Regions from separate parts of the Homo sapiens genome. Here region 1 is linked to region 2. Evidence: fine-mapped expression QTL. A gene starts in region 2. The other region holds a variant in brackets. All regions are shown on one strand. Distances are from middle to middle. Region 1 overlaps RMDN3 (regulator of microtubule dynamics 3). Region 2 holds the start of GCHFR (GTP cyclohydrolase I feedback regulator).

Region 1 (13,456 bases), 22 kb after region 2:
AGATCACCTGAGATCAGGAGTTCAAGACCAGATGGCCAACATGGTGAAACCTCGTCTCTACTAAAAATACAAAAATTAGCCAGGCATGTTGGCAGGCACCGGTAATCCCAGCTACCTAGGAGGCGGAGGCAGAAGAATCACTTGAACCCAGGAGGTGGAGGCTGTAGTGTGCCAAGATGGCACCACTGCACTCCAGCCTCGGTGATAGAGCAGTACTCTGTCTCAAAAAAAAAAAAAATTACTGAGGCTGGGGTGTGGAGGCTCATGCCTATAATCCCAGCACTTTGGGAGGCTGAGGTGGGCAGATCACTTGAGGTCAGGAGTTCGAGACCAGCCCGGCCAACATGGTGAAACCCTGTCTCTACTAAAAATAGAAAAATTAGCTGGGCGTGGTGGTGCATGCCTGTAATCCCAGCTATTCCGGAGGCTGAGGCAGGAGAATCACTTGAACCCAGGGGGTGGAGTTTGCTGTGAGCCGAGATTGCACCACTGCACTCCAGCCTGGGTGACAGAGAAAGACTCCATCCCAAAAAAATAAAGAAGTACAAACTTCTGGGGTCAGTGGGAGCCAGAGCAGTTAACCAGGGACACCTGGGGGTCCTTCACTGCTAGGGGTGCTCACTGGGACTCCCAAGGCCACAAGGAGCAGGCCAGGGCTGCCAGACACCTGTGATGGGGCAAGGGGAAGAGTGGATTTCTTAATTATAGCGCCTTCAGGCTGTGTCCCATGCCCAGTCCCGTGGCATGAGAGCAGGTGGTGGTGCAACACTGTGTGGTTGAGCCGGCTGTTCTCTAGGGCAGTGGCCGTGGTGAATGATTCTTTGTGCCATGGTCATTGCCATGTAGGTCAAGGGGGGAGCTCTAGGAGTCTACAAACTCTGAAATGGCTTTGAACATGTGTGTCTTGGGGCAAGGAGAGCTGCTTTGAGGGATGAAGGGCTGAGATTTGATGGGCTGCTTGATTTCACTGAAAGCTGTATTCCTTCCTTCTTCCAAATAACAACTTTGAGGTCTCAGGAGATTGAGGGTGGCAGAGGCAGAATCACTGTGCAGCTCTGTGAGCTTGTTCCCCGGGCATTGTACCAAACACAGCTTGAGTTCCCTCTGTCAGAACCCAACTTGCCCTAAAATACCAGCTCCTCCAGCAAGCCTTCCCAGGCATCTCAGCCAAGAGAAATTGCCTGCAGCCTCATCGTGAAGACTCCTTCTTGGGCATTTATGACCTCATTAAGTTGGGTCTTATCTCAAGGTCAGGGTCCATGTGCCTGGTTATCTTTGAAGGCCTCATACTCAGTCTCTAACATGGTTTAGGTTAAGAGAAACTTAATTGCCAGGAGGAGAGATGTGTGTAACTGAGTCCTTCATTACTGCTTAAGAGTAGAGTGGCAGTCTCTGCTCAGAGGGAGCCTTGGGTCTCTGGCCCACTGTGGGAACTCCTGTCCTCCGGAGTGCACAGGACCAAAGGGCCTTTTCAAAGGTCCCTGCTCGTCTCTGGCAGATCTCAAAAGCCTCAGGGTATGTTAAAAGGGTCACTCCTCTCTGGTAGATTTCTCCAAAGGCTGGCTGGGTTAGTCTGGGAGGTGGAAAGTGAGAGAGAATGGTGTAAATGTGGTAGCCCTTGGCATGTGATTAATCTCTTCTGAGGCCCCAGAAGCTGCCTCAGGCAGTAGGGTTTCAGATTGTTGAGGGTTCCTTAAAGTGGGGCTGAGATGCAATTAAAGTCTACTTTCTATGCCAGCTTCCCTGGAGCCTCCCTGCCTCACAGGGCTCTACCATCTTTCACTCTGTTTGTGGCAGCAAGGCTCCCTGACCTCTCTTCTTGGCTTTGTGAGCTGGGCCTTTAGGATCCAGAGGGATGGCAGCATCGCAGCTCAGGTCCCAGGGGATTCTGTGCTGATGCCTGGGCTCCAGCAGGGCTAGGTCCCTCCCTGGGAGTGCTGGAGGCAGAGAGACTCCTCTTTGGACTCCTGATTGGCTGAGGCAGCCCTCAACTCAGCAAGAAATAGGGTCTCCCCCTCCTTCTAGCAAAGGGAGATGATGCAATTCCAGCTTCCCGTTCCAGATAAACCATCTACCCATTTTGCATTTGGGCCTGGCTGGGCAGAGGAGACTCTGGTTTGATTTTTCTCAATCTGGCAGGTGCAGTTGGGAGTTTCATTCTCTAGGTTGCCTGTGGGTGGTCTCCCTCATCAGTACCCAGGTTGGTTACGAAATCTAATGACACTTATCCTTGTCCCTTTGATTTCTAAAGGTGTTTTTTTTTTTTTCTAATAACTAAAGGGGAAATCTACTTGGATAACCTCTTAAAAAACAAAGGTGCAGTTAGGAAAGGTTTTAAATACCTTACAAGTTCTTGTAGTAGATGTGTCTGGGGCCTCTTTTTTAGATGAGGCTGAAGCTCCTCTGTAAGGATGCAGTCAGCACGGACTGGGTACCAGGTCTGGCTGCTCACTTCCAGAGCCTTCAGAGCCTGCCACCTTGTGGTTTCTGGTTTTCTGGGCAGGACAGCACTTCTGCCCTGACATTAGGCTGTCAGTTGTTGACTTTATTTGTAGGTGGTGTGTCATCTCTCCTTCAGTCCTGTTTTGCTCCAGCCACAGGGAGCCTATTCTTTTTTTTTTTTTTTTTTGAGACGGAGTCTTGCTCTGTCGCCCAGGGTGGAGTGCAGTGGTGTGATCTCCGCTCACTGCAAGCTCTGCCTCCCGGGTTCACGCCCATTCTTCTGCCTCAGCCTCCCGAGTAGCTGGGACTACAGGCACCTGCCACCATGCCTGGCTAATTTTTTGTATTTTTTAGTAGAGACAGGGTTTCACCGTGTTAGCCAGGATGGTCTTGATCTCCTGACCTCCTGATCCGCCCGCCTCGGCCTCCCAAAGTGCTGGGATTACAGGCGTGAGCCACCGCCCCCAGCCTTGTGTTTGCTTCTGACCCCCAGAAGTCCTACCTTTTCCCCTGCTCAGTCCTTATCTATTTTAGGCATTTAGGGAAAACACCCTAATCAGCTGCTGGTGGCTGAGATCCAAGAGAAACTCAGCTTCCTCTTTAGTGGGTGCATCAGGGTTGGGGCTCCTTAGGAGCCACCTGGCATATGGCAGCCCCCCAAACACCTTTTCAGGGGGTAGTTTGCATTGTCTTCCCCTTCTTGCTTCTGGCTGCAAAGTGGTTCCTATCACCTCTCCTCACACCCTTAAGTTCTCAAGGTTACTATGGGCTACTCCTGTTGCGGTTTAGGTTTGGTTGTTGACTTGGGCCAGAGGTTGCGAGTTTGTGGATGTGTGTGTGGCTGCCCATGGCCTGAGGCTGCACCCACCCATGTTGGTTGTGGCAAGTGTCTCTGACTGATAAGGCAAAAACGAGCAGGGACTTCTCACATTTGCCTTAACTGTCACAGGGCCTCAGCTGGTTGTCTGCTCTTTCCTTCCTGGATCATTTTCCCAGCCCTTAGTTCCCATAGGAAACTTTCTCTCAAATAATGATTTCTGCTGGGCATGGTGGCTCATGCCTGTAATCCCAGCACTTTGGGAGGCCGAGGTGGGCGGATCACTTGAGGCCAGGGGTTTGAGACCAGTCTGGGCAACATGGCAAAACCCCGTCTCTACTAAAAATACAAAAAAATTAGGTGGGAGAATTGCTTGACCCCAGGAGGTGGAGGTTTGAGTGAGCCAAGATCGAACCACTGCACTCCAGTCTGGGTGACAGAGCGGGACCCTGTCTCAAAAAAAAAAAAAAAAAAGAAAAAAAGTCTGCCCTTAAGAGGTATGAATGATTGTGATTTGGTGCTTTGGACAATGCCATGTAGAGTGCTTCTTTGGGGGTGAGGGATAGACAGACCCTAGGGGCTCTGAGCTGAATAATCCTCTTGTTGTCCCTTACATTTCTCTGCCAGTTACACAACAGCCAATGCGGAGTCTGACAATGAGCGGGACTCTGACAAAGAAAGTGAGGACGGGGAAGATGAAGTGAGCTGTGAGACTGTGAAGATGGGGAGAAAGGATTCTCTTGACTTGGAGGAAGAGGCAGCTTCAGGTGCCTCCAGTGCCCTGGAGGCTGGAGGTTCCTCAGGCTTGGAGGATGTGCTGCCCCTCCTGCAGCAGGCCGACGAGCTGCACAGGGGTGATGAGCAAGGCAAGCGGGAGGGCTTCCAGCTGCTGCTCAACAACAAGCTGGTGGTGAGGCTCCAGCTGCCTGTCTCCTTCTCCTTCCCTCCCTCCCTCCATCTCTCTGTTCCTGACCCCTGGGGAATGAAGGCCCGTGTGGTTACTGCCCCTACAAGGTGACATGGGACGAGAAATGGTGAGACAGCTGGTTTTGCATCTGTCCCCCAGGTCACATATCCTCTTCCAAGGAGGCCCAGCGTGGATCCTAGGGCCAGTGTACTGCTTGCCCCAGAGCTGCCTCCCCTCTTGGGAGGGGGAGTGTAGTTCTCTGCTTTCTGTAGAGCTACTGCAGAAAGAGCTCTACCTCTCACCTCTAGGGGGAAATGTGGAAAGAACTGTATTTTTTTTTTCTCCTCATTTCCCTTGAGGCAGAGTCCAAGCTGCCAGCCCCATTACAAGCGACAACTGTGTAGGTCACTCAACCATAATTCTCTTGTCAGGTTCACTGACAGAATATATGCCCACCCAGGTATAAATGCCCCCCCCCCAGAAGTTAGAAGTTTCCCTTTTCCTTTCACACTTTCTTCATGTGTCAGCAAAAGACCTCTCGTGCCTTATGACATCTTGGAGTTGACCTTTCCTCCCAGCAGTTCTAGGAGGTCAGAATGCCCTCACCCCGTAATTGTGCAAGCTACTGGCTAGACAGAGAATGTGTCATACATTAACTGCACGTGGGAAGGGATGACTGGGGGGAAGGCTGCGTGTAGGAGCTGGCCTGATATTGATGACTGTAACATACTAGCTTGGAAATTCAAACCTAGGGTGTGGGGGAAGGCCAAGGCCCCCATTCTCCACAGTTGAGGAAAAAGGGGCCTCACCCGTTTCTGTCTGGTCTGCAGTATGGAAGCCGGCAGGACTTTCTCTGGCGCCTGGCCCGAGCCTACAGTGACATGTGTGAGCTCACTGAGGAGGTGAGCGAGAAGAAGTCATATGCCCTAGATGGTAAGTGCTGACAGCTTCCTGTGGGAAGGTGACTGACTGATTCAGGGGTGGGGCTGGCCCATCTGCCTGGGGACCCGGGGAACCACCAAGATGCTGTCAGCAGTTGTGGCTCAGTTACCCACTAGGGACAAACTCTGGCTCCCAAAGACCCTTGCTTTCTCCTCTGGAAGAAGAGAGCAGTCTTTGCTTATCTGTATATCATGCTGATTAGTAACACACGTGCATGTGTTTCTAGGAGTAGTTGTATCCTATCAATGTTATTCGTTTTTCTCACTCTAGCCACAGAGGGCAAAACCTTTTTTCTTAACCTGAGGTTTTTTGCTGCTGCTTAGAAATCTGGTTTCAGTTTTCTGAGCTGGTGGGGCAGGTGTTCTAAGAATATAGCTAGCTTAGAAGACTCTGGAATCCACTTGGCAAGTCTGTTGGCAAAGGCTCCACCCTGGAGGATAGGGTGCATCTGACCTGTGCCAGGCTCAGGGCTTGGCCTTATCTGTCATGAGGTCAGAGAATGCTTGGACTTTAGAGACTGATGTGTCCTGCTGAACTCCACACACTGAGTCAGGTACCATCAATGGGTAATGGGTTTCTAGGTCTGTGGTTCAGTTAATATCTATTTTTTTTTTTTTTTTAAACAGTCTTTCTCTGTTGCCCAGGCTGGAGTTCAGTGGCCTGATCTCGGCTGACTGCAACCTCCACCTCCTGGGCTCAAGCAATTCTCCTGCCTCAGCCTCCCCAGTAGCTGGGATTACAAGCACATGCCATCATACCCGACTAAGTCTTGTATTTTTAGCAGAGATGGGGTTTCGCCATGTTGGCTAGGCTGGTCTTGAACTCCTGGCCTCAACTGATTCACCCACCTAGGCCTCCCAAAGTGCTGGGATAACAGGCATAAACCACTGTGCCTGGCCAGTTAACTGTCTAAAATGGATTTGTCTACCTTTCTATTGTAAGTACAGCCTTACAAATATTATTGAATCCTTGATAATGTATACTCAAACAGTACCTCAAAGTTAACATTCTAAACATTTGTAGAATTCTGTCAATGGAGAAAGAACAGACCAATTGAGTAGGATGTCTCTGTAGACCCTCAGAAAAATTCCTGGAAGTTTTAACAAAAGATGCTTATTTATGATTACTTTTTCTCTCCAAAAGTTTGTTTTCCCTCCTAAATTTCAGATGAGGATTCTCAGCTTTTGGGCTGATTTTTGGACTCTTCATGTCAACAACCTTTCCTTTCCCTCTTGATCATTGGTCATCTCTTATTAGTGCTAGTAGCCAGCATGAACCCCAAAGACAGAAGTGGAGGCAGTGGTTAGCAGGGCAGCACTTGGTTGGTCTGGCCTCCTGAGCTTAGCACCCATGGACAAAGCTTTACCTGCTGGAGGTCAGATGACTATGGAATGTCTTTGAAGGTTCTGCTCTGAGATCACAGCCTTTAAGAATTATCCTTACTGGGTATAAAGTTTATTTCATTGTATCTCTAGGAGCTGGACCACCAGGAGGCAGTCATTCTGTGGGGTCTCAGGCAATGTCTTGTCTACAACACTGTCTGTCTAGCTTGGCAGGAACTAGTTGTCTCATTCTTTGCTATTATTTTCCTAGTGAGACAGTACTTTGAAGAGGGCAGAGAGAAATCCCCAAAGAGGCAGCGTCCCTCATTGGTGGGGCCATGTGGTCCCTCTCTTTGGGAAGAGAGGTAGAGTCTTTCACAGCATCAGTTGTCTTAAGAATGCATTTGTGGCCAGGTGTGGTGGCTCATGCCTATAATCCTAGCACTTTGGGAGGCCAAGGCAGGAGGATTGCTTGAGCCCAGGAGTTAGAGACTAGCCTGGGCAATATAGTGAGACCTTGTCTCTACAAAAAAAAAAAAAAAAACTTAAAAAATTAGCCAGGCATGGTGGTGGAACATGCCAGCAGGAGGATTGTTTCAGCCCAGGAGGCAGAGGTTGTAGTGAACTGAGATTGCACCACTGCACTCCAGCCTGGGCAACAGAGAGAGACCCTGTCTCAAATAAAAAAAGGAAAACATTTCAGATTAGCCAGTTTACCACCTCAATGCATTACATTTGTTCCATTTTCTCCATGTTCCCTTCCAAACTTGTTTTCTTCAAAGAATTCTTGGCTGGGCACGGTGGTTCGCACCTGTAATCACAGCACTTTGGGAGGCTGAGGTGGGCGCATCACCTGAGGTCAGGAGTTTGAGACCAGCCTGGCCAACAAGGCAAAACTGTCTCTACTAAAAATACAAAAATTAGCCAGGTGTGGTGGCACACACCTGTAATCCCAGCTACTCGGGAGGCTGACGCAGGAGAATCACTTGAACCTGGAGGCGGAGGTTGCGGTGAGCCTAGATCGTGCTATTGCACTCCAGCCTGGACGACAGAGTGAGACTCTTGTCTCAAAAAAAAAAAAAAAAAAAAAAAAAATCCTATGTTGCAGTGTCTTCTCCAGTGCATAGGCATGATGGTCCTTATCTGGTGGTCCGTAAGCTCCAGCCTCGATACTCTTAAGTGACGCTTGTCAGAACTTTCATGTTTATGGGCTTTCATTTCTTTGTTAGAACACTAACCTAGAAAACTCGGGTAAGACTAAGTGAACGTCATCTCTGGTCAGACCTCAGTCCATGTGGCTCTTGTGAAAGAGTTTTGGCCTAGAGCTAATTAATATTGTTGGATCGTGGATCCTTTTGAGAATTTTTTTTTTTAAAGAGATGGGGTCTGCCTATGTTGCCCAGATTGGTCTTGAACTCTTGGTCCCAAGCTATCCTCTCCTTGGCCTCTCAAAGTTCTAGGATTACAGGTGTGAGCCAATGTACCCATCCCCTTTAGGGAATTTTTTCAAAGCTGTGATCTCTCTCCCCACTTACTTAAATTTTATACAACTTGAGATTCATGGACACTGCCCCTCCAGAGTAAGGTCTGTTGGGGACAATTTCTGATTGTGTTGGATCCGTTGTTGTTGTTTTTTTTGAGGTGGAGTTCGTCGCCCAGGCTGGAGTGCAGTGGTGCAATCTTGGCTCGTTGCAACTTCTGCCTCCCAGGTTCAAGTGATTCTCCTGCCTCAGCCTCCTGGGGAGCTGGGACTACAGGATGTGCCAACATGCCTGGCTAATTTTATATTTTTAGTAGAGGCAGGGTTTCACCATGTTGCTCAGGCTTGTCTCAAACACTTGGCCTCAAGTGATCCACCCACCTCGGCCTTCCAAAGTGCTAGGATTACAGGCATAAGCCATCGTGCCTGGCTGGATCCTTTTATATTTTAAATGCTAAAATCTGCTTCAAGCACATCAGGTGGGCATTATAAAAAGAAGGTAACTGGGGTTTCTAATGACAGATGGGGAAGCCAAGGTGAAGCAGAAGTCATCCCTGAAGTCTTCCCTTAGAAGCCGTTTGCAGCCTTTTCTGAGACAGTCTTGCTCTGTCACCTAGTCTGGAGTGCAGTGGTGCAATCTCGGCTCACTGCAACCTCTGCCTCCTGGGTTCAAGCGATTCTCCTGCCTCAGCCTTTTGAGTAGCTGGGACTACAGGCGCCTGCCACCACGCCCAGCTAATTTTTGTATTTTTGGTAGAGATGGGGTTTCACTGTGTTGGCCAGGCTGGTCTCCGACTCCTGACCTCAGGCGCTCTACCCGCCTCAGCCTCCCAAAGTGCTGGGATTACACAGCACAGAGGCGTGAGCCACTGTGACTGGCTTCTTTGCGGCCTTTCATTCTGCTCAAGTTCACAACTATTTCCAAACAAGTCCAAGCTGGGTAGGGATTGGTGAGAGCTAAAGCAGTCATTCTTCCCACAAGCCTTCCTATGAAAGTGTGCATAAGAGCTATGTCAACTCTGGATCTACCTTCGTCCTACAGGAAAAGAAGAAGCAGAGGCTGCTCTGGAGAAGGGGGATGAGAGTGCTGACTGTCACCTGTGGTAATAACACCCTGCAGTGTTCTGGGAAGAGCCAGCAAGGGCCAAAGCAGAGGACAGCCCTTTCTTTTCTCTGCCTGGGCCACAGAGGCATTTTCCAAAGGATCCAGGAGAGGGAGTTCTGGCTTGTATCTCCACATGCCTCAGTCTACCCCTAGCCAGAGACAAGGGAAGTTTCTGGTAGGGGAGGTGGCTTAGGGATGAGGCAAGCGGGGAATACAAGCTTTTTTTCTGATGGGGCTTGGAGAAATGAGTAGCTTTGTTAAGAGTCATCCTAGCTACAAAACTGGAGTTCTTGGCTCTCAGGAGGCTGGGACAATCTGCAGCTCCCCTATCCTGCATAAGCTCTTCTTTCCCCTGCGTGTGATCCCTGGCTGCTGGTACTTTGGCTTCTTTGCTTGGTTCATGTGAGGAAAAGTAGATGTGAGCTCACCCCCCAGAAGTTTAGTGGTCAATTTATTAGGCTGCAAAAACATCAGCCCTTTTTGTGGTCTCATGTGAGGCAAAGTTCTGTCAGCTTACCTGGGCCACGGCTAACTCATATCCTGGGGTCTGGTTCCAGCACCTGAGTTTTAGTGAAAATGTTCCTTTCCTTTCCCACCGCCACCCTTGCTTTCCATGTCTCCACCCTCAGACTGTGAGCTAAGTGAGAGGCTGTGTTTCTCCATCTGTTGCTGAAACTTTTGTCTCTGCAAGGGTTCTTCTCAGAGGCCAGGTAACTGTTTCTTGGGTGTCACTGCTTCCCTGGGCTTCCAAGGATGAACAGCTATTCCTGAGGAACAGCTGTTTGGATTAAACATGGAAATGAGCCTCTAGAAGTATCTGATACCCCCCG[GA/A]TACTTAGCATATACATGAAAAAGCAACTTGGGCTGGTTACTCATCGAATGTCAACTGTGCTGCTAGGAACAATGCTGGGGGGATGGGGAAGTAAGACTTTGTTTCTGAAGACAGATGATGGGAAGCTGGCTGGCTGGTTCCCTTTGGGAGGGGGGATGTGGGGGAGAAGGCATATATAGGAGGTCTTTCTTCCTCTGGTTCTGTTGGTTTCCAAGTAACATCAGAAATTCCTAGAATATCCCCTCCCAATGTGACTATCCTAAGAAATTGCTTCCCAAGTCCCAGTGATACACCTGTATGCTTAAAGGCTAATGAGACCCACTTTTTTGTCTGCCCAGAAGATAAGTAGTATAGTCAGGTCTCATACTTTTATGCTGATTGTTTTCATGCTTTTCAAGTTTTTATTAATGCCTGTGGCTGTACTCCTTATGAGTGTAGGAGAGATTTACTGTGTAAGAGAGATTTACTGTGGTGAACCCAGCTTTTTTTATACCTAGAATACTTTGGAGACTTGTAAGCCTACCATTATCTACTAAAGAATACTAATTGGGGCCAGAGGTCCGTAAAGAATGGGGATTACGTACAGATGAAAATTAGGTATTTTCAGCTCTAGTTGAGGGTACAGGGATAGGGGACAATGCAACTAGGCTGTGGTTGGGGCATCCATTCCTTGCAGTGATGGTACTCAGCCCTTGTCCCTGAGCTTGCTGCTTCCCCCCTAGGTATGCGGTGCTTTGTGGTCAGCTGGCTGAGCATGAGAGCATCCAGAGGCGCATCCAGAGTGGCTTTAGCTTCAAGGTGAGGACAGGCTTTTCCTCCTTCCTTGTGCTGGCCTATCCCAGATTCCCCACTCCTTTCCAGCTCCCTGCCAAAAACTTTTCTACAGCCTCAGTGACTTGCCTTTCTTCTTTTTTTTTGAGACAGAGTCTCACTCTATCGCCCAAGCTGGAGTGCAGTGGTGTGATCTTGGCTCACTGCAACCTCCTGGGTTCAAGCGATTCTCCTGCCTCAGCCTCCCAAGTAGCTGGGATTACAGGCATGTACCACCATGCCCGGCTAATTTTTGTATCTTTAGCACAGATGGGGTTTCACCATGTTGGCCAGGACTGGTTTCGAACTCCTGACCTCAGGTGATCCACCTGCCTCAGCTTCCCAAAGTGCAGGGATTACAGGCATGAGCCACTGCATCCGGCCCTTGCCTCTCTTTTAGCAACTCTGGTGTCTGATGTTAGTTTATATTTACATTTTCCCCTTAGGAGCATGTGGACAAAGCCATTGCTCTCCAGCCAGAAAACCCCATGGCTCACTTTCTTCTTGGCAGGTGGTGCTATCAGGTAAGCTGCGTTTCAGTGCTTGACATAATGGTCCTAAATGCCTTCTGACACCGATTTCCTTGCCAGGAAGAACAAGATCCTCAGCCTTCTCTGGCTCAGGTGCCCTTTCTTCTGAATGCTCGTATTATTGGTGGTTCGACCCAGCCCCGTTTGACCCTATTTTCAATATATCCCCAAAGATTTAAAGAAAAAAAACCTTTTAAAACCTCTTATACACACCTTGATCTTTTTGTGGCAGGTCTCTCACCTGAGCTGGCTAGAAAAAAAAACTGCTACAGCCTTGCTTGAAAGCCCTCTCAGTGCCACTGTGGAAGATGCCCTCCAGAGCTTCCTAAAGGTATGAGAGGGGCAGGTGGCAGGCAAAAACACCAGGGTAACCTTGTTTTTTCCTAAGGACATTATTGAGACCCTTAATGGGAGGGGTTTTCCTAGTCGGGGGCAATTTTGTGTTTGCCTGTTCTATGGGAAAACCAGAATCACTTGCACAGCTTATCAAAAATATAGGTTTCTTCAGACCCACTGAATCAGCCACATGGTTGGGGACTAGAAATCTAGTTTAATAAACTTCAGCCTGATTAGAATATAGGAACCTCTTACTGAAATATCTTTGTCCCTTTTCCCAGGCTGAAGAACTACAGCCAGGATTTTCCAAAGCAGGAAGGGTATATATTTCCAAGGTAAACTCATTTGTCTACTTCAACATAGATCTGGGAACTCCTGAAAGTACACAGTATCAGGTTTCACTGTTGTCTCTTTTCAGTGCTACAGAGAACTAGGGAAAAACTCTGAAGCTAGATGGTGGATGAAGTTGGCCCTGGAGCTGCCAGATGTCACGAAGGAGGTAAGGCTTTTTAATACTGCCTGTTGGGCAGATCACCTGAAGTCGGGAGTTCGAGACAGCCTGACCAACATGGAGAAACCCCATCTCTACTAAAATTACAAAATTAGTTGGGCCTAGTGGCGCACGCCTATAATTCCAGCTACTCGGGAAGCTGAGGCTGGAGAATCGCTTGAATCCGGGAGGTGGAGGTTGCAGTGAGCTCAGATCGTGCCATTGCACTCCAGCCTCGGCAACAAGAGCAAAACTCCATCTCAAAAAAAAACCAAACAAAACTGCCTGTCATCACTGAATCATCATGTGACATTTTTAGAAAATAATCTTTCCTAGAGGTCTTATTTCCCTAGTAAAAAAGAGTCTACCTCTAGGGGAAGAGACAGATTTAATAGGCTCCAGGCTATCCTGGGGAAGTAGGAAAAAGACTGTAGCAGAGCTCAGGAAGGAAGCAAAGGGCCCCTCTTCTTAGGTTCCACTGGTTTGGGAAAATGCTGGTTTAAATTTTGAGCCCTAGATTTGTTCTTTGTCTCCCTAGGATTTGGCTATCCAGAAGGACCTGGAAGAACTGGAAGTCATTTTACGAGACTAACCACGTTTCACTGGCCTTCATGACTTGATGCCACTATTTAAGGTGGGGGGGCGGGGAGGCTTTTTTCCTTAGACCTTGCTGAGATCAGGAAACCACACAAATCTGTCTCCTGGGTCTGACTGCTACCCACTACCACTCCCCATTAGTTAATTTATTCTAACCTCTAACCTAATCTAGAATTGGGGCAGTACTCATGGCTTCCGTTTCTGTTGTTCTCTCCCTTGAGTAATCTCTTAAAAAAATCAAGATTCACACCTGCCCCAGGATTACACATGGGTAGAGCCTGCAAGACCTGAGACCTTCCAATTGCTGGTGAGGTGGATGAACTTCAAAGCTATAGGAACAAAGCACATAACTTGTCACTTTAATCTTTTTCACTGACTAATAGGACTCAGTACATATAGTCTTAAGATCATACCTTACCTACCAAGGTAAAAAGAGGGATCAGAGTGGCCCACAGACATTGCTTTCTTATCACCTATCATGTGAATTCTACCTGTATTCCTGGGCTGGACCACTTGATAACTTCCAGTGTCCTGGCAGCTTTTGGAATGACAGCAGTGGTATGGGGTTTATGATGCTATAAAACAATGTCTGAAAAGTTGCCTAGAATATATTTTGTTACAAACTTGAAATAAACCAAATTTGATGTTATCAGCTCTTTATTCTTACTTGACACCTCCATAATTGTTTCTACCTACAGAGGCTGTTGCAGGCAGGTTATGGTTAATGCTCTTTACAGTATATAAAATACAGGTATCGAGCTTATTTTTAGCCTAAACAAGGCCTATTGCAACTAAGCAGGTACTCCCTGCCTTTCTCATGTTCATTTTTAGGGCCACGAGCACAAA
Region 2 (15,085 bases):
AGGCGGCAGAACTGTCTAATCCCGGGAGACGGTTCTGGAAACCAGCTGTGCCGCTTCGCTGTTGAATGCCCATCCCTGGATCCAGTTCTCCTCTCTTCGAGGAAGGAAACCTGCCAGGGCTCCCATCACTAGTAATTCTGGGAATTCCCCAAAGTACCCCTTTGCAAGCCGTGCGCGTGCCTGTGGCTGGCATTCTCTAGAGCTGCCTTCCTTCACCAGGGATTGCTCCGGGTAGCTGTGTTGGCAGACTGAGCCACGTCCTCATTTCTGCTAAGGATTTGCCTGGTCTTTTTCCTGAGTTATACTCTATCTCTACCTATCTCTTCCTATGTGGCCAGCCCCTGTATGCGCCTCCCCTTTGCTGGTGGCTCCAGGCCATGGTCTAGACAGCGCTGTCCATTAGAACTTTGTGCAGCGATGTTTACGTCCATTCTGCACTGACCAGTGTGGTAGCCATTAATCATGTGTGGCCACCGGGCATTTGGAATGTGGAATCTGGAATAACGGTGCAGCTGAGGAACTGAACTGTTAATTTTATTTATTTCAATTCAGTGTCATGCAGTGAGTGGCCACCAGATTAGACAGGGTCAGGCCTTCTCCCCTTTCTTCCTGGGCCTTCCCACTTTCCTCTTCTGCCTGGGTTGGACTGCCTTTACCCAAGCTTGTCCTGTGACCTCTCTCTGTTGACAGTGGCTTCCAAAGAGGCTGGCATGGGGCACTCATCTCTTCTGCTCAGTCTGTGTCCTCCCACTCCCTGATCTGACCCCGTGCCACCTTCTGGCTCTGCCAGCCTCTACCTGGTTCCTGTAGTGCCGCACAGAGCCTCCCTTTCCCGGCACAGCCTCCCTTTCCCGGCATAGCCAGCTTTCTTCAGGGTCCTGCCAGGAAGGGCCGCCCCCCCAACATTTCCAGATTGCCTCTGTCCCTCCACTCTGGGGTGCCTGGAAGGACTGTCCAGGACCCAGAGAGCAGGCAGAGCCCTGGATTCCTATCCTGGAATCCTCCCCCAGGATGAAGAAGCTCTGCCTGCCTGAACCCTCCAGCGATGGGCCTGGAGTCCTGTCCCTGTCCTTTCCTTAATCCCCAGCCTCTGGATCTTCCAGTCACCCCGGCTTTGCCCACCCTCACCCCATTTAGAAGCTGGGCTCGCTAGGAAACTGCTCCCTTAGCATCTGCAGAACTTCCTCAAGAAGTGAAATCCCCAGGTCCACTTTGAAGGAGAGGAAGGGATCACTGAGGTCTGGGGTAGGTGTCCTCTGGAAGCAGGGAGTGTCCACAAGGCCCTTCTCTGAGTGCTGGTGGAGGGCACTCGACAGAGAGAGCGCCGATGGCAGGGTGGCAGAGTAGGCTGCTGTGTAGGCAGGTGGGGGCTCCAGGATGTTGGGGCAGCTTGAGCTCTCTCGGTAGAGGCGTGGGGGCTTGGGTGGGGCCAGCAGGGTGGCCCGGGGCTGCTCGTCCCCCCACAGTGGCAGGCGCCGGCCATCTGGCCTCCCTTGTAGCTCCCGGATGACTTCTCGGTTGCTGTACTCCTCGTGGTCCCCACCTGCTGTGCTGGCCTGGCTAAGCACACTACTCTGTCGCCGGAGCCGCCGTGGCCGCCCCAGGCTCAGCTGCTTGAAGAAGGAGGCGTTGCGGAAGGAGCCTTTCCGCCAGGTCTCCATGGGGCCCAGGGGAGCCAGCAGACAGGTGTTCAGGAGCAGCCAGGGTGCATGTGGTCCCTGCTGGGGCAGTGAGTGCCAGCAGCTGGGGAGGCTCCCCTAGGAGCAGAGGCCTCAGGGTTTCCACTCAGCACAGACCTTTGACCACATCTTGGATGGTGAGAGGAGGGCTCAGGAAGAAGGAACTTTTTTGCCCAGGAGAGCAGACAGCTGGGAGTTCCTGGCAGCAAGAGTTTCCCACAGGGACAGGAGTGGCCTGGTTACTGAATAGGGTAGTGGAAAAAAACCCAGGAGGAAGAAGCAGCACTTACTGGAGCCAGAATGAGGGCAGCTCCGGCGGAGGCAGAGGTGGACCTTCTCGGGCTGGGTGAGGCTGGCGAGCGCTCCTTCCACAGGCAGGCAGCAGATGGCCCGAGCTCACTCGCCCTGGTGTTTGCCTGGCTCCTATATGTCTCTGGGGCAGTGTGGGGCCGTGCCCTCTCTGCCAGTGGCTCCCGGACTCTGATGAGTGGCCTGGCTGTTTGTGGCGGTGGAGATGTGTTTTTGTTCTCAGCTGACTCAGTCAGGTGGGAAGCCAGGTTTCGTGCTCTTGGGTAATTGCAGCATCCGCGTGCAGGGATGGGGCAGCTGGGACCAACACCCCAGGGCAATGGGGAGCTTAAGATTCCTCTGGGGACTCGTGTGGGGGCAGCCCTGCTTTATGTGTCACCACGCGGCTTCCTTTCTGATCACAGCCCCACCACCCTGGGCCCCCAGCAGGTGCGCCTGGCTCCCTGCCCACAGTGTCTGGGTAGGAAGAGTTCGGGGCGGGTGGGAGTTAATTGAAAGGCAGGCGTGTGGAACGATTGTTGGGGAAGGAAGAGACCTGTAGCTGGTATGGGTGACTCAGCCCCGCTGTCAGGCCCTCACGAGCAGGAACAGGAAGGGGGGCAGAGGGTGTGTTAATGGGGAGCAGCGCCATGCCTGTGATGGGCGGGCTCTGCTGCCCAGGGTTGGGCTGGGGGCCCGCCAAGGGTGGCTCCAAGTTTTCTTGGCAGAGCAGCATTAACCTGGGGATGGGAGATGTGGCCTCCTCTTGGCCTGCCATCAGCCTGGCTGCTATTTCCTTGTCCTCCCTTGTTTTACCCTAGAGGGCTCCTGCCAGGAGAGCGGCTGCTGAAGGCCGGGCCGTGTTGCCTCCTACCTGGCTGTGCTCCAGCCCTTCCCCTCTGGCTACCGGGCTTCCTCTGGGGTCCTCCTTCTCTTGCAGGAGGCTGGGCCAGGGAGGCTGCCGTGAATTGTCAGCCGTGCTCTGGGCCAGGCTTAGCAGTCCGGCCTAGCTGGGACTGCTGCAGCCGGGGAGAGGGGAGGGGTGCAGCCATCGGGAGGAACAGGGGAACCCAGGCTGAGTAACACTTCCTGTTTCTCTACACCCCTTACTCCAAACCTGCTGGCCAGGGCCTGGCATCTCAACCCTAGCTGCTCCCTTCCTATTCCCCGGGTCACTGACCACCACATTTTCCTCCTGCCTTGCTCTGTGACAGCGTCCCCATGCGGGGTACCGCGGATCAGGGCCCCACAGCTCTCTGCTACGGGCAGGCCACCGCATCTTGCAATCCCTGGCCTAGCTCACTTCTGTGCCAACTCAGGTGTGCTTCACACTTCTCTGAGAAGCTGTTGGGACCACATGATCATCACACAGCCTAAGCGGCACCGAGGGAGGAAAAGGTTTAATTCCCACCGCAGACCTTATCAGGGCGTGGGTTGGCAGCTTAGGTCCCGCTGTAGAGCTGCTTCTCCACCCTACAGCCTTGGCCCATTCAGATGGTTGTTTATTATTCTTTTGATTATGGGCCCTGCCCTCCAGGAGCCCTGGTGTGTAGTTTTAGAGGCACGCTGGCCTCATGCTTGCCTTTTTCCCCTTCGAGGGTGGGGCATTCCGGGCTGCCTCGGGTAGGGCTCCCTTCTGCATCCTCAGCAAGAGCCAGACCACAGGGCACCGGGCATAGAGAGTGCCAGGGTCAGTGCCCAGCAGAGCCAAGTGCATCCCTGCTCCTCAGACAACTTCCCTTCCTTGGGAACCTAAGAGGCAGAAGCTACGGGGTAGAGGGAAAGGGGTGAAGGGTAAAGGGCCCAGAGGAAATGAAGGGAGACGAGGGCCTGGCTTAGAGGGCCCGCAGGTGATTCCTGAGAAACAGATGGACCGGAGCTGACGCGGCCTGGGGAAAGGGAGGGGGAGCTGGCTGGGTAGAAGCCGGCCTGGAGGCCAAAGGTGGCGTGTTCTGGGGGACACAGGCGAGCCAGGATTCCAAAAGGATGCTCCGGGTTCCTTCCCTTCCTCTGCCGTCCTCCCTCCGAGACTCTTAGAACGCAGCACTGCCTCGGCACCGTACTCGGAGTCTGTGAGGCTGTGCCCTGCTGTCCCTGACCCCTCCCTGTCCCTGCCCTGTCCGACAGGGCTCAGTGCTGTCAGAGAGGGACTACGAGAGCCTCGTCATGATGCGCATGCGCCAGGCGGCCGAGCGGCAACAGCTGATCGCACGGATGCAGCAGGAAGACCAGGAGGGGCCGCCTACGTAGCCCCAGCTCCAGCCATCCACCCCTCAGCCCTTTTCTTCAACGTCACCAATAAATTTTTTTTTTTTTTAAGATTTTACCTCTATCCCATACATAGGTATAAGGTGCTGGGCTCTGCCGCAGAGCGCTCCACCCAGGCCTGGCGCCCCTCCCAGGAAGTGGGCAGACCCCCAGGGAAACGCTCCGCAGGGTGAGAGTCCCAGAGTCCGTGCACAAGCAGAGCACAGGCGCAGCCACTCATCACAGCCCTTTATTGGCTTGGGCTAGCTATGCAGGAGCCACGCGCCAGGGCCGCTGGAGTGCCCAGCTCCGGCCCGGGGCAGCTGCCCGAGGAACATGGCCTACACAAGGCCCTCGGCCCAGGCCCGAAGCAGGAGGGCAGCTGGGAGCACCAGGGCACCGGGCACTGCCCTCTCCCACTGCTTGACGCAGGGTTTCAGAGAAGGCCATTCACTGCCCTTTGGGGCTGGGCCCATGGCGGTGATGATTTGGGAAGAGAGGAGCAAGGCAGACGGTGAGGCAGGAGCTTGGAGGTCAGGGCCCACAGCAGCCCCTCCACAGGGGTGCCCCGTCTGCAAATCAGCATGAGAAGGTCACTCCTTGTGCAGACACCACACCAGCGTCTGGCCCACCCCCGTCATGCTCAGCACACGGAAGCCCCTGCGTTCCAGCTTGTCCAGGACTATGCGGGGAGGGTCATCGACGTAGTATTCATAACTGCAAAGAGACAGGATGGGGGGGGTGAGGAGGGGCACACAGCAAGCTCCTGGTACAAAGCTAGTGTCTGCAGCAGGCAGCCTGGCCACTCTTGTAGTGACTCACACTTGCTGGCTGCTTGCTGGGCGCTGGGGTAAGTGCACGCCCCCTGCCTCCTCCCCTTCTAGGTACTTCACGAGCTATCTCATTTATTCTTCCCAACAAGCTAGTGAAGGTGCCACTGTTGTGGCCATTGATAGATGAGAAAACAGAGGGGTTAATCAGGTTCCCCAGCGTCCCAGATGGTAGACCATGTTAGTCTGACCACAGCCCTGCTGCCGCCCTCCCTGGGCTTGCTCCCCACCCAGGCTTCCAGGTAGGAGGAGGCTGAGGCTGCAGTGAGCCATGATTGCACCACCGCACTCCAGCCTGGGCGACAGAGACTCCATTTCAAAAAAAAATAAGCCTCCAGGCCCCTCACTGCCCTGGCTGTCCTGCAGTTCTGTAGCAACAAGGCTGAGCCCCAGTAGCTCCTGGCTCTGTGCGCCACTCCCTAGCATGGAGAGTGCTGGTAGTCCTTCTGTCAGGTTTAATTGATGCTGAAAGACCATGAAGCAGACAAAGGGCTCAAGCCCCAAGCTGGGCATGGAGAGGCAAGTGCCTCATGGCAAAGGGAGGGGGCTGGCTTCTGTCCCCGAGCCTTGACCCAGGGGCTGGGATCAGCCCTCCTCTTTCCCCGATTTGAACTGGCACTCACTCTGACAACTCTTTTCAGAGAGCCTGTGTAGCTTGGGTTCTCCCTGCCTCCAGGGGTGAGAGGAGGAATGGAAGCAGTAGTCACAGTTTAGACATGGAGGCATTAGGAAGAATGCCAAGGGAAATGGCTAGGTCCCCAGGCAGCAGCCACCCTGGAGGTAGGACGCAGGCTCCCTGCTCCCTGCTTCTAGGGCTTAGCTTTGCGACTCATGCAGATCCTCACGACAAAAACCTTTCTCTCTGTGCCTGTCTGTCCTTGATGGGGTCCAGCTTAGGAGAGGGCAGGGCAAGGAACAGTCTGCTAGTGGAGTCCTAGACCCAGGGAACGGACTCTGTTTCTGCGGTTCCAGTAAGGATGTGGAAAGCTTTCAGAGCAAGCCTCGTGGGGGAGAGGGGGGATGTTGGAGAGGCTACAGATGGGACCAACTCCTCCGGAGAACAGAGCCCCAGGATGCAGGCAGGGGGCTCTGATGCTGGGCCCTGTCCCTGGGCTTGGAGGTTGTATAAAGGGAGCAGAGGCAGGTCTAGGGGCTGGCAGGGAGAGGATACTGAGGGAGGCTGCTACTTACAAGTTGTTTCCCAAGGCTCTTCTCTTTGAAGCCCCCAGATGCTGCATCAGCTCTGGATCCGACTGTTCATCGCCCACCATAGTGGGGCCCACCTCCTGCAAGGTAAGCCACAGTGGCTGCTTGGCTGGCTGCCAGGAGGAGGTGGAAGGTCTTGCCTGTCCTTCCTCCCCTGCCTGCTAGCCCTGAGTAAGGTTCAGGTAAAGGCTACAGAGAGTAGCAAGGATTCTTAGGGGCTGAGCACAAGCTGTGAAGGGGTGGAGCCCATCAATGATCAGGAGGAGCAATGTAGGCGCCCTCCCTAGTGCCTTAAAGCTCAGCTTTAGCCAGGCAAAGTATCACGAGCCTATAGTTCCAGCTACTGAGGCTGAGGTGGGAGGATCGCTTGAGGTGGGAGGAGTTTGAGGCTGCAGTGAGCCATGATTGCACCACTGCACTCCAGCCTGGGTGACAGAGTGAGACTCCATTTCAAAAAAACAAAACAAAATAAACATGTAAATGAAAGAAGCCAGACTCAGATCACATTACCACAGAAAGGTAATTAGTGGTTATCTAGGGCTGAGGGACTTGGGGGAAATCAAGAGTGTCTGCCAGTGGGTACAGGGTTTCCTTTTGGGGTATTAGAAATGTTCTAAAACTGATTATGGTGATGGTTGCACAACTCTGAGTACACTAAAGAAACAACAACACTGAATTGTACACTTTAAATCAAAGAATTTATGGTATGCACATTACATATCAATAAAGCCATATCTTTTAAGAAATAAGAATCACTTTGGGGGGCCATTTCCAAGTATGGGTTCCCAAGCCCCAGACAGAGTTTTAGGAGGTCTGGGAAGGGACCCAGGAATCCACATTTTGGCAGCTGAGCAGATGGCTGCTTCACAAACCGCTGCCCAGGGCTCTGCAAGAGCTCTCTGTTGCGTGGTGAACCCACCAAGGGGGTTGTGTACCCTTTGCTGGTTCACCCCAGCACTGGGCAGTGAGCAAGGGCAGAGAGCACCTTGCTGCCCGTCATGTCTTTCTGAAGCTAAAAGGGGACTCCTGAGGGGCAATCAGAACCTTTTTACAGATAAGGAAACTGCGCCCAGAGAAAGGAACGTGACTTCTAACTCATGGTGTTCCCACCTCTAACTGCACAGCCCCTTCTCGCCTTCCTTTTTTCCAAGCAGGGTGTTCTTTCTTTTCTTCCTTCCCTAAAGCTTCAGGGATAGCCCTTCCTGGAAGTGCCTAAGGGTGCAGCTAGTTGCTGTTTATGGGTCAAGGACTTGGCACCGGGGTTTTAGCGCCTTGGCAGGTCCTTATCTTTTCCAAACCTCTTTCTCTCAGGTTATTCGCCCTTTTTTCCCCTGCGGAGCGGCTCTGTGCAGGGCACTAGGTGCTGCGCGTGAGGCCAGGGCTCCCTGGGTCTCTCCCGCCGACAGGTAGGACAGGAGCCGGAAGCGCCCGGAGGTCGCCCTGTTGCCGGGACGCACGTACCCGGGCCCCTTCGCGGCAATAAAGGCTTCAGGCCGGCCAGAGCTCGCTGAGTCCCGGAAGCCGAGCTGAGCCCGCTTCTCCACTCCCTCTCCCCGGCCAAGGGGGCGTGTCTGGGCGGGTTCCCGGTCCAGTCCCCGGTGGGTGCAGCCCAGGAGGGAGGCATGAAGGTGCAGTCGCAGCCCCCTAGGGCCTGGTCCCGGCTCCAAGTCGCCAGGCGGCCGGTACTCACCATGCGGATCTGGGTGCTGATGAGCAGGTAGGGCATGGTGCACGCGTCCCGGCCTGGCTCCCACCGGGGGCTCTAGGCTGGACGCCGACTCCAGCCCTTCTCGCGTCGGGACTGCGACGCGCAGCTGGGAGTCCCGTTACTCCGGCTCTGGCCACAGGCGGCGTCAATCCCGGGGCACCTTGCCCGTGACCGCCGTGGCCGCCAATCAGGAGCGGCTGCCGTGACGCGCCCTGCAGTCGGCGGTTCGGGGCCCGCCCCCGCCCTCCCGGCGGCGGACTTGGACCCCGGGGCCCACCTGAGGCTTCCGCCGAGTGATCCAGTTGCGGGAAGGTGGAGTGCGGGGAGGAGGGGGCGGTCCCACGACCTGGAAGGACACTATCCTGAAGCTCCAGCGTCCTCCAGGACGCTTAGTGCTGTTTTCTTTGCAGCCTGTGATCTTACTGCGTCCCCGCGCGCGTGTTGCCCCCGCGCCCGCTTCTTGAACACTTCAGGCCAGGTTCCAAAGTCCCCTGCCAGGCAGAGCCCAGAGCAAACGGCGTCCTCACGGAGGCCTCTCCAGGCCCCAGCCCACCCCTCTCAGAGACGCCTCGACAGCTTCAACGGGGCCCCACTTCCCCTCGCCAAGACATGCGCTCCAGAGATTCCTTAAGCGCTGAGGAGGCCGGGGCACGAGGCTCGGAGCTAGCCCTGAAGGCGACAACTAAAATACCACCCAGGGCGCACTGTGCATTCCCCCTCCCAGACTCTAATTCCAGCACAGAGGCGGATCCTTGCATTTCTGTGGACCCGCAGGAAAGTCTGTAAAGGAACCGCGCGCTTGGCTGGGTGCCAGGTCTGGAGTGACTGAATGGATGGAACCTGGCCTTCCCTCCCCTGAGCTTCCCGCGCAGCTGGACAGACGCGGCGCACGCGCAGGAGGTCACTGGGCAACACCTGGGGCAAATGAAACAACTTCCCCCGCACCAGCCACCAATGAGCGGCTGCGAGTTCCCAACCGTGTGTCCACGCCCCTCATCCGCAGTTATCAAAATCTGACAACTCATCCTTCTTTATCTGCCTTGTTGTGATTGGTTTTCTTTTTTCTTTTCTTTTTTTTTTTTTTTTTTGGACATGGAGTTTCGCTCTTATTGTCCAGGCCGGAGCGCAATGGCGCGATCTCCGCTCACCGCAATCTCCGCCTCCCAGGTTCAAGCGATTATCCTGCCTCAGCCTCCTGAGTAGCTGGGATTACAGGCCTGCGCCACGACGCCCGGCTAATTTTGTATTTTTAGTAGAGACGGCGTTTCTCCATTTTGGTCAGGCTGGTGGCGAACTCCCGACCTCAGGTGATCCACCCGCCTTGGCCTCCCAAAGAGCTGGGATTACAGGCGTGAGCCACCGCATCCGGCCTGTGATTGGTTTTCTAGAAAATAAAGCAAAACAAAAACAGCCTGTAGGTAGCCTTCCCTCCCATGGGAGGGTAATAATCTTCACTTTTTAAGAGGGGCCTTTATAGGGGATGCTGCCGTTCCAACACTTTGACAGACGTGGAGAGAGCTATAAGGGAAGCAGGAAGTTGTAATCCTAAACGTTCCTTAACTGGTCTAATTTATTATTCTGTAGTTCCTACCCCTGCCCTCTTACCCACTGACCTAACAAGTTAGCCAGAGAGATAAAACACATTCATGCTTAACAAAGGATGTGTTAAAACTGACGAAAGGGCCGGGCGCGGTGGCTCACGCTGCTAATCCCAGAACTTTGGGAGGCCGAGGCGGGCGGATCACGAGGTCAGGAAATCGAGACCATCCTGGCTTAACACAGTGAAACCCCGTCTCTACTAAAAGTACAAAAAATTAGCCGGGCGTGGTGGGGGCCGCCTGTAGTTCCAGCTACTCGGGAGGCTGAGGCAGGAGAATGGCGTGAACCTGGGAGGCGGAGCTTGCAGTGAGCCGAGATTGGTTGGGCCACTGCACTCCAGCCTGGGGCAGAGCAATACTTCGTCTCAAAAAAAAAAAAAAAAAAAAAAACTAACAAAAGATTGATGCCCAGGAGCTCCTACAACTCAGTGAGAAAAAGATGAACAATGGAAAAAACAGGGGTAACTGACTTGAATAGGCCCTTCACAAAAGAGGAAATAGAAATGACCAATAAACATATAACATGATGCCTAGTATATCATTAGAAATACAGGAAATACAAATTAAAGTCAATTTTACTTTTTTTCATTTTAACCAAATTTATTTAAACCCCAAGACTTTGTAGACACAGTGGCTCACGCCTGTAATCTAAGCACTTTGGGAGGCCAAGGTGGGAGGATCGCTTGAGCCCAGAAGGTTGAGGCTGCAGTGAGCCATGATTTGGTTTATTTTTAAGTAATTTATCCCTACTTAAAGACAGATTACCCTACATGTGAAAGCTATGTACAAAAATCATCCACTGATTAGAAGGATTTTTTTAAGTTATACAATTGTCCTTGGTTTTTACAATGATAAATGAAAAACATTAAAATTCTTCAGTTGAATAAAGTATGGAAGGATTTTTATGTTGTCATTTTTTAGTTAAAACAGAGCAAAATATAACTCACTGGAATATAGAGACAAGAGCTGAGCCGGGCACGGTGGCTCATGCCTGTAATCCCAGCACTTTGGGAGGCCGAGGTGGGTGGATCACTTGAGTTCAGGAGTTCGAGACCAGCTTGGCTAACATGGTGAAACCCTGTCCTACTGAAAATACAAAAATTAGCTGGGCGTGGTGGCACACACCTGTAGTCCCAGCTACTCGGGAGGCTGAGGCAGGAGAATCGCTTGAACCAAGGAGGCAGAGGTTGCAGTGAGCTGAGATCATGCCACTGCACTTCAGCCTGGGTGACTGAGTGAGACTCTGTCTCAAAAAAAAAAAAAAGTCAGATGTGGTAGCACATGCCTGTAGTCCCGCTTGAACCTGGCAGGCGGAGGCTGCAGTGGGCCAAGATTACACCACTGCACTCCAGCCTGGGCAACAGAGCAAGACTTCATCTAAAATAAATATATGAAAAAAAGATAAGAGCTGAATGAGCATGCCAAGAATGGAGAAAGGGGGTATTTTCACAGAAGCAGTATTTTTCCCAGTCCCATCTCCACCTGATGTCAATCAGAACACACCATTGGCCATTTTACAAAAAAACAAACAAAAACACAAATGCAATACGCTGGTGCACACATACCCATTACTGTATGTACAGCAAAGGAAAGGGGAAGGTGAAAATGAAATAAAACTATACTATATTGGTCGGGATGTAGTGGAACCAAATTGCAGTTTTCTAATTGAGGATGTAATCTTGGTCTGTAAGAACAGAGGTTTGGAGTAAAGTAGTAGGTTCCTTTTTTAGTAGACACCTGTCTCCTGCAGGAAAACGTCAATTGTGTATTCATCCTCCATTACCAACTGTGCAGGTATGTCTGTTTCATTGATTGACTGCCCATCAAATCCGAATCTGATCTGCCTCATTGACAAATCCTGTTATTCACAATAGGCTCTCATCAGTTTACTAGGCAGTGTATGCCTCTTAAACTGCGCCACAGAACTATCCTGCCACACCACCTTCAAACAAATATGATCGTTGTTCTCAGTCTTAACTTCTTCCTTGAGCTTCCATGGCCATGGCAAGCACCAGAATCTCTGCAGCTGCTGCTTCACAAAGCAGGTACTGTTACCGCCCTCAAGGGAGGGTCGCTTGACCCGTCCAGTGCAGTTCTTACCAATAAAATGAAACCAGGTTCAGTAAAGCAGAGCAGAAACGTTCATTGGTCAAGAATGGAAAAGGGGAGCTTCTGCTCAAAGCACCTGCTCCCTGGACATTGGGTAAAGGGGGATCTTAAGGGTTTTTTGGGCAGATAGGTGAAGACTGGGGTAGGGATTCCTGGATGGGTTCTTCCAGGAGCAGCTGGAGTGTGTAGATTCTTTTTGCACCTGGCACTGTTTGTGCTTAGCAAGGTACATTTCTCCGCACTGAGTGGAGATTTTAGTATAGCAGTGAAGCAGTAACTCAGGTCAAGGCAGCACTGCTGAGTTCAGTTCATCTTGTGGCTGGTTCCTGGTTATTGGCACCTGGCCTTTGTTTCTGTAAGCAAGCGCAGCTGGGAGGATGGTTAATTTCACAGGTTTTGGGACTTCCTGAAAGAACTGAGGGCCAGCGCAGTGGCCCCCGCCTGTAGTCCCAGCACTTTGGGAGTCCAAGACATGCATATCACCTGAGGCTGGGAGTTAGAGACCACCCTGGCAAACATGATGAAGACCCGTCTCTACTAAAAATACAAAAATTTGGCTGTGCACAGTGACGCATGCCTGTAATCCCAGCACTTTGGGAGGCCAAAGCGGGTGGATCACTTGAGGTCAGGCGTTCAGACCAGCCTGGGCAGCTGCTCTCTGCCCAGCGAAACCCTGTCTCTATTAAAAAATACAAAAAATTAGTTGGGCCTGGTGGCGGGTGCCTGTAGTCCCAGCTACTCGGGAGGCTGAGGCAGGAGAATCGCTTGAACCTGGGAGGTGGAGATTTCAGTGAGCCAAGATCAAGCCACTACACTCCAGCCTGGGTGACAGAGCAAGACTCCGTCTGAAAAAAATAAAATAAAAATAGAAAAATTAGCCGGGCATGGTGGCGTGTGCCTGTAGTGCCAACTGTTTGGGAGGCTAAGGCACAAGAATCACTTGAACCCTGGAGGTGGAGGTTGCAGTGAGCCCAGATCACACTGGGCAACAAAGTGAGATTCCATTTCAAAAAAAAAAAAGAATTGAGGTCATGTTGCGGTAACAGTACCAGATCCAACCAAACAAGCACATAAGCAACACCAGGAGTACAGAAGACTAAATTACTTTTTTTCTTTTTTTTAAGAGACAGGGTCTTGCTCTGTCACCCAGGCTGGAGTGCAGTGGTGTGATCAAAGCTCACTGTAACCTTGAGCTCCTGGACTTGAGGCATCCTCCCACCTCACCTCCCACATGCCACCATCCCCAGTTAATTTTTTTTTTTTTAATTTTTTGTAGAGACAGTCTCACTGTGTTGCCCAGGCTGGTGTCCAACTCTTGGCCTCAAACAATCCTCCTGCCTTCGCCTCCCAAAGTACTGGGATTACAGGCATGAGCCACTGTGCCCAGCCTAAGCTACATTTTTTTTTTTAATTGAGACGGAGTCTTGCTCTGTTGCCCAGGCTGGAGTGCAGTAGTGTGATCTCGGCTCACTGCAAGCTCTGCCTCCTGGGTTCACACCATTCTCCTGCCTCAGCCTCCCGAGTAGCTGGGACTACAGGCGCCCGCCACCACGCCCGGCTAATTGTTTTGTATTTTTAGTAGACATGGGGTTTCACTATGTTAGCCAGGATGGTCTCGATCTCCTGACCTCGTGATCCATCCGCCTCGGCCTCCCAAAATGCTGGGATTACAGGCATGAGCCACCGCACCCGGCCATAAGCTACATTTTAAATCTGCAGTGAGATAGTGCTTTACAGGTTAGCAAAAAATAAAATAAATAAATAAATTTAAAATGTTAAAATCTGTAAATATCAAGTGTTGGTGAAGATGTCAACAATCCCACTACTGTTGGGCTTGCAAGTTGGTGTGAATGATACCCTGTGACGCAGCCAAACCTCTCCTAAATAAACCTCAGGAAAACTCACAGCCATCAGGATACATGTACAAGAATGTTCACAGCAGCACTGTAACCAGTAAAAAACTGGAAACAGCCCTTATATCTATCAAAATTAGACTAAAAGTTTTTGAGCTAGGTTGGGTGGTTCACACCTGTAAGTCCCAACACTCGGGGAGGCCAAGGCAGGAGGACTGCTTGAGCCCAGGATTTTGAGACCAGTCTGCGGAACACAGTGAGACTCCCATTTCTACAAAAAAGAAAGTTTCTGGCTGGGCATGGTGGCTCATGCCCGTGATCCCAGTGCTTTGGAACGCCAAGGCAGAAGGATCGCCTGAGCTCAGGAGTTTGAGACCAGTTTGGACAACATAGTGAGACTCTGTCTCTACTGAAAAATTAGCCATGCATGGCAGCACACACCAGCAGTCTCAGCTCCTCGGGAGGCTGAGGTAGGAGGATAGCTTGAGCCCAGGAGTTCAAAGCTACAGTGAGTGGTGATTGTGCCACTGCACTCCAGCCTGAATGGCAGAACAAGACCCTGTCTCAAAAAAAAAAATTATATATATATATTTCTAAAAGGGCTGGGCATGGTGGCTCATGCCTGTAATCCCAGCATTTTAGGAGGCCGAGGCAGGAGGATTGTCCGAGCCCAGGAGTTTAAGACCAGCCTGGGGAATACAGGGAGACCCTGTCTCTACAAAAAAAGTAAAAAATTAGCTGGGCATGGCGGCATGTGCCTGTAGTTCCACCCCCGGCTGAGGTGGGAGGATATTTTGAGCCTGGAAGGCAGAGGTTGCAGTGAGCTGAGATCATGGCACGCCTGGCTAATTTTTTTTTGTATTTTTAGAAGAGACAGGGTTTCCCCATGTTGGCCAGGCTGGTCTCGAACTCCTGACCTCATGATCCACCCACCTCGGCCTCCCAAAGTGCTGGGATTGCAGGCATGAGCCACCGTACCCAGCCAATTTTTGTATTTTTTAGTAGAGATGGGGTTTCACCATATTGGCCAGGCTGGTCTTGAACTCCTGACCTCGTGATCCACCTAACTAGGCCTCCTAAAGTGCTGGGATTACAGGCGGGAGCCACCGTGCCTGGCCTAGAGAAAGAATTATTTTTTAAGGCATCAAGAACCTTAAACATTATACACAAGGGTAAGGCCACCATCCCAAGGCATTTGACTTGTCACCTCTCTTGGAAGAGCCGGGGTAGATGAGGCAGATGTTCTGGGCAGAGGGCAGGACAACAGTTTGGGGTCTGGTCTGCTCTCTTCTCAGGCTGGGCTGTGGAGGGGGTGGGAAGGTGGGCAGTGCATATCTCAGGCAGCCAGGCCTTTATTACATTTGCAAAGCTAGTCTGCAGATGCAGCACAAGATAAAGAGCTCTGTCCAGAGCCACCCACCACACTGCTGATTGCCCTGGCAGACACGTGCCTGCCAGATAACATCTTTAATATCCAGGGGGAAATGAATTCCCCTGCTTGGTCTGCCCATTTGGCCTAGCCTCTCATCACAATCCGTTTATCTCACAGAGCTGCCTCCCCCCCGTA

What was found. PIP is the estimated chance that this variant, and not a neighbour inherited with it, causes the effect.
Region 1: its variant is fine-mapped to the expression of GCHFR in whole blood (TOPMed, PIP above 0.99).

What each region holds. Positions count from the first base shown.
Region 1 is chr15:40,735,690-40,749,145 of GRCh38, reverse strand. It overlaps RMDN3 (regulator of microtubule dynamics 3), which reads left to right. Exons shown (of 13, transcript NM_018145.3): 5 at 3,887-4,169; 6 at 4,997-5,099; 7 at 8,953-9,013; 8 at 10,570-10,645; 9 at 11,104-11,181; 10 at 11,420-11,518; 11 at 11,805-11,858; 12 at 11,942-12,022; 13 at 12,552-13,259. The coding sequence ends at 12,605. Among named protein-coding and RNA genes, the nearest start is that of RMDN3, 13 kb to the left of the region's middle. RefSeq lists a silencer at 2,384-2,553 and an enhancer at 7,745-8,617. The variant GA/A (reference allele first, on the strand shown) is at 9,846.
Region 2 is chr15:40,757,072-40,772,156 of GRCh38, reverse strand. GCHFR (GTP cyclohydrolase I feedback regulator) reads right to left here and starts at 8,089. Exons shown (of 3, transcript NM_005258.3): 1 at 7,941-8,089; 2 at 6,236-6,330; 3 at 4,449-4,931. The coding sequence starts at 7,976. The coding sequence ends at 4,808. DNAJC17 (DnaJ heat shock protein family (Hsp40) member C17) reads left to right here. Exons shown (of 11, transcript NM_018163.3): 11 at 4,095-6,996. The coding sequence ends at 4,217. LOC124903474 (a long non-coding RNA gene) reads left to right here and starts at 10,889. Exons shown (of 2, transcript XR_007064599.1): 1 at 10,889-11,350; 2 at 11,431-11,683. C15orf62 (chromosome 15 open reading frame 62) reads right to left here and starts at 2,177. Exons shown (of 1, transcript NM_001130448.3): 1 at 1-2,177. The coding sequence starts at 1,661. The coding sequence ends at 1,134. It also overlaps the pseudogene SUMO2P15. RefSeq lists enhancers at 1,044-1,660, 1,618-1,707, 1,661-2,279, 5,977-6,766, 7,544-8,409 and 1 more and a silencer at 8,076-8,525.